2 separate regions of the Homo sapiens genome follow, and region 1 is linked to region 2. Evidence: fine-mapped expression QTL. Tissue or cell type: whole blood. Region 2 holds a variant in brackets; the other region holds the start of a gene. All regions are shown on one strand. Distances are between the middles of the regions.

Region 1 (2,500 bases), 91 kb before region 2:
AGGGGTAAGGGGTGCTGTCAATTCCTTCCCATCTTCGGAGCTGGGAAGCCCAGTCCTGTTGGATCTAGTATAAGCTTCTTACAGATGTTTGGGTCTCCTTTCTCTGAGGCGCCCTGGTTCACTGGGCCAACTCAGGAGTTGGTCTGCCCTTCCTCAGAAATCCCTTCAAGTTTTTCTGTTCCTCTTCCTAGACTGGTGCTTTTTGGCTGGGTCAGTTTCCCAAATGGGCCTGTAGCTGCTCTGAGCTGGGTCATCCAGCCGTTTAGCAGCTGCTTCAACCACTGCTAGGCTGCCTTTTGGAGACAAGAGCTCCCAGCTCCTCCTTCTGGCCTAGCTTCCCATCAAATGGGGCCCTGGGTCCTCTCCTCACAAGGATTTTGGGCTCCTCCGCAGTTTTGTAGCCAGCCTGGATTCTGGCCTTCTGCAGCCTGCTCCCTCCCTTCCCTTCCGCCCCTGGGAAGAGCGACCCCCACCACTCTCGGAGACTGCACTGCCCGCCTGTCAGAGTGGGCACTCAGGTGACACTGCTGTGGTCGTCCCCTTCCTCCGTGATCCATTCCGGAGGGGGTCATTCTTAGTCTAGGCCTGCAGGCCCGGAGCTCCAGCCATGGTCTCCGCCTGTCCCTGACCGGCGGTCTGGGAGGCAGCAGGTAGGGGATCCCGGGCAGGCGGACCAGGCCTGGGTGGGGGGCGAGCAGGAGGCGCGGGACAGCACCTGGGGGTCCCAGCTGATGAAGGGTCGGGGTGGGCAGCGGTTTGGGGGCCAGACGGATCCGCGGTGTGGGCGCGCCGGGGTGTTGATGGAGGAGGGGCCGAGGTGCTGAGGGCGGGGTCGGGCTGGGGTCGGGGCTGAGGGCGGAGTCGGGTGGGGCGGAGTCAGAGCTGAGGTGAGCCTGAGGGCGGAGTCGGGGCGGGCTGAGGTGGGCCTGTGGGCGGAGTCGGGGCGGTGTGCTGAGGTGGGCCTGAGGGCGGAGTCGAGGTCGGGCTGAAGGCGGAGTCGGGGAGGGCTGAGGTGGGCCTGAAGGCAGAGTCGAGGTCGGAGCTGGGGACGGAGTCGAGTTCGGGCTGAGGGCGGAGTCGGGGCGGGCTGAGGTGGTCCTGTGGGCGGAGTCGAGGTCGGGCTGAGGGCAGAGTCGGGTCGGAGTCGGGGCGCGCTGAGGTGGGCCTGGGGGCGGAGTCGAGGTCGGAGCTGAGGGCGGAGTCGGGGGCGGGGACGTAGGCGGAACCCGGGTCGGGCTGAGGTGGGCCCGAGGGTTGGGCTGGGGGCGGAGTGGGTGCCAGCCTGAGGGCGGAGCCGGGGGCGGGCGGGGGCGGGCTGGGGCGGGCCTACAGGCCAGACTGGTGTGGCACGGAGCTGAGGACCGGCCGGAGCTTTGCGGAGGGCCCGGCTTGGCGGGTCCGGGGGGGAGCCGAACCCGCGGGGCACCGGGTCCGGGCGGGGCCGAGCCGGGCCGGGGCGGGAGCCAGCCGGGGTGGGGCGGGGCCGAGGCCGAGGCAGGCGGTCGGCAGTGCTGGGGGTTCAGGTGTTGCGGCGGCTCCACGTAGCCAGGCGGCCCGTGGGCTGGAGCGGGCGGAGCTCGGCCCGCGGCTTGCGTGAGCTCAGGCCGGTCCCAGCGTCCAGAGCGCCGGCCCTTCGGCTTCTTCTAGGCCATGGCAGGGCCGGGCCCAGGCCCGGGGGACCCGGACGAGCAGTACGATTTCCTGTTCAAGCTGGTGCTGGTGGGCGACGCAAGCGTGGGCAAGACGTGCGTGGTGCAGCGCTTCAAGACCGGCGCCTTCTCGGAGCGCCAGGGAAGCACCATCGGCGTCGACTTCACCATGAAGACGCTGGAGATCCAGGGCAAGCGGGTCAAGGTGGGAGGCCGGCCAGGGCCCCTGGAAGGCGCTCCCTCGGAGGGTGGGGCGGGGGCAGCGGAGCCCCTGGCCGCGGCGAGCGCACCCCGCGTCCATCTGAAGTTTCCTTTGGCTTCCCCTTTTTCCTTCCTCGGGTCGGAGCAGGCCTGGGCCCCGGGGTCTGGGCCGGGTTCAAGTCCTCAAAGCGCCGGCCGTGGGTTGCTGGGGGGGGGGGGGGCGAGGGAGTGTGGAGGAGGCGGCCCTGCCCTCCGGAGCTCACACCCTAGGAGGGGACTGTGCTCCAAAATAACTTTAGCCATTGGAAGGCAGGGGGTTAGACTCCCCTGTTCCAGGTACTAGCGGAGCGCCTTGGAGTGCGGAGATCAGACCCCCCACCTCCATCCACCGCGATGGCAGCCCCCAGCTCAGCCCACCGGCGGGGCACTCAGCCAGAGAACTGCATCCCCACCCCAGGACTAGGAGCGATCAGGAAGTAGTTGCTTTTAGGACCAGAGGGCCAAAACTTTTTGTCAGAATTTCCGGCCTGGCCACGCCTCCCTGCAGTCTCTTTGTGGACCTGGTGGTGGAACTTTACTCGACTAGGGCCAGCCCCGGTTCCCTCCCCCAGCTGGAGTTTGATAGAAACTGAAAACTTCACAGATACCGG
Region 2 (2,752 bases):
GGCCCCCTGGTGTTCTGCTGCCCAACCTCAGTCCCCATCCCCGTCCCCAGGGGAGTCCCACTCCCTCCTCTTCCTCTCCACCCAGCTCCAGGGGCACTTGAGTCAGGCCCGGCCAGGCTGAGTGCAGCCTCCTCTGCAACTAGTTCAGGAAGGGCAAGGGACCCAGTGGGAGCCACTGGAGTTAACCCAAGACTTGGACTCAAAACTTGCAGGGAAGAGAAATGCCCTCCATGCTTCTGGCTTGGGAGTTGAGAGGACCAGGCCTGGAGCCACTGGTGACCATCTTGCCACTATGAGGGGAGTGCCTGCTGTGAAGTGAATCACTGTAGAGCAACGCAGGGCCAGGGGTCCAGACAGCTGCGCTGCTGACACTTCAGCTGTGCCTGAAGCTTGTGTGGACTTTTTAAGTTATGTGAACCAATACATTCTCTTTTAACTTAAGCCGGTTTGGGCTGAATGATCTGACACTGGGAGACAAACGATGTCCTAACTGATACAGCTGTTTAAAAACAAAACCAGGCTTATGACCCCACCCCCACCACCCCAGAGAATCACATGCAGAGATCCGGGGTGGGCCTGGGCATCCATGTTTTTCTTTTTTCTTTAGGGGGGCAGGGCCCCACTCTGTCACCTAGGCTGGAGTGCACTGGCACAATCTTGGCTCACTGCAGCCTCTACCTCCCAGGCTCAAGTGATCCTTCTGCCTCAGCCCCCACTCCCCCTCCGAGTAGCTGGGACTATAGGCATGTGCCACCACACTGGGCTAATTTGTTTGTATTTTTGGTAGAGACCAGCTTTTGCCATGTTGCCAGGCTGGTTTCGAACCCCTGAGCTCAAGCAGTCTACCCGCCTCAGCCTCTCAAAGTGCTGGGATCACAGGCGTGAGCTACCACATCCAGCCTGCATCCATGCTTTTAAAGGTGACCCTGGCCACCTGGCAAGTTTGGGAACATCTCAGTGTATCCTGACCTCCTGATGGCTCTACACACCCCAGATTCTCTAGGCCCAGGTTCTTAGGATGATGGGGCTGGGGAAAAGGGCCCCAGCCCAGCCTGAGCACCTGGTGGGAGTGGGCTCTGTTTGGAGGCTGGTGGTAGCATGGATGCAGACAGGCCCTTGAGAGCAGGGCTGAGCACAGCCGGAGGGACTGTGAGCCTGGCAGGAAGACTGGGCGCACAGGGGACAAACCTTCATCCAGGGCTCTGCTTCCAGAGCTGCTGTCTGACTGCCAGGCTCCCTCTGGAGTGGGGTCTGGGTCTCTGGTCCCAGCATCTTCAGGTTCATTACTCTTGTCTCCTGGCTCTGGGTTGGCTAGCTGCGGGGTTGGGAGCTGGGAATCCTCTGACCTGCAGCCGTGGGAGAGACACAGGCATTGAGGAGGAGAGTACAGGACTCTTCCATTCCCCACTGTACATGGGCAAGCTGTCTATGAACACCCATTGTCACCCTGGCAGAGTCAGCTTCCCACAGTCCAGGAGGAAGTGCTAGATACTCAGATTCCCAGCATCCCTTGCAGCTAGGGCACAGGCATGGAACCCAGTTTTAGCCAATGGGACTCAAGGCAAAATCTTCTGCAACGGATTTTCATCCTTATAAAAAAAAA[C/AC]CTCTAGGAAAAGAAATGCCCCTTCCTTCCTGCCTTTAGACATTGTCATGTGAGAATGTGATGTTTGGAGCTGCAGCAGCCATCTTGTGACATGAAAAAATGTCTGAGAGAATTACTGAATAGCTGAACAAAAGCCTTAATGTCTTTTAGCTGTTGAGTTCATCAGCCCTAGGGCCACCCATCTCTGTACTTCTTATTATAGGGGAATTTTAAAAAAAGTTTTCATTGTTTCAGCTACTTTTTGTTTGTTTGTTTGTTTTTAAGAGATAGGGTCTCTATGTCACCCAGGCTGGAGTGCTGTGGCATGATCTTGGCTCACTGCAGCCAAACCTCCCGGGCTCAAGCGATCCTCCCACTTCAGCCCCACAATTAGCTGGGACTACAGGTATGCGCCACCACACCCAGCTAATTTTTGTATTTTTTTGTGGGGACAGGGTTTTGCCATGTTGCTTCCGCTGGTCTCGAACTCCTGAGCTCAGGCAATCTGCCTGCCTCGGCCTCACAAAGTGTTGGGATTACAGCCATGAGCCACTGCACCTAGCCTACTTTTTTTTTTTTTAATTTTTTAAATAGAGACAGAATCCTGTAATCCTAGCACTATGAGAGGCAGAGGCGGGTGGATGACCTGAGGTCAGGAGTTCGAGACCAGCCTGGCCAACATGGTGAAACCCTGTCTCCACTAAAAATATAAAAATTAGCTGGGTGTGGTGGCACACACCTGTAATCCCAGCTACTTGGGAGGCTGAGGCAGGAGAATCGCTTGAACCTGGGAGCCCAGGAGGTGGAGGCTGCAGTGAGCCGAGATCTACCACTGCACTCCAGCCTGGGCAACAGAGCCAGACTCCATCTCAAAAAAAAAACCAAAAAACAAAAAACAACAGAATCTCACTGTGTTGCCCAGGCTGTTCTCAAACTCCTGGTCTTAAGAGATCCTCCAGCGCCTTGGCCTCCAAAAGCACTGGGATTTCAGATGTGAGTCACCACACCCAACTAGTTTAAATTGCATTTCTGTTCCTTGCCCCCGAAAGCCTTTAATTGAAACATCTCCCTTCTCTGGGCTTTGGGGAACCTACATTACACCCCACCAATCACTTTTCTTGATATTTTAAGGGCCTGACCTTTTGAATATTCATTTTCCATTTCCCTGCA

The links. PIP is the estimated chance that this variant, and not a neighbour inherited with it, causes the effect.
Region 1: it holds the start of RAB43, and the variant in region 2 is fine-mapped to the expression of RAB43 in whole blood (TOPMed, PIP above 0.99).

What each region holds. Positions count from the first base shown.
Region 1 is chr3:129,120,640-129,123,139 of GRCh38, reverse strand. It overlaps RAB43 (RAB43, member RAS oncogene family), which reads left to right and starts at 1,336. Exons shown (of 3, transcript NM_198490.3): 1 at 1,336-1,854. The coding sequence starts at 1,651. All of the region lies in intron 11 of ISY1-RAB43 (ISY1-RAB43 readthrough), which reads left to right. RefSeq lists silencers at 1,107-1,326, 1,347-1,526 and an enhancer at 2,307-2,500.
Region 2 is chr3:129,029,297-129,032,048 of GRCh38, reverse strand. It overlaps EFCC1 (EF-hand and coiled-coil domain containing 1), which reads right to left. Exons shown (of 8, transcript NM_001377500.1): 3 at 1,189-1,346. Among named protein-coding and RNA genes, the nearest start is that of EFCC1, 29 kb to the right of the region's middle. The variant C/AC (reference allele first, on the strand shown) is at 1,604.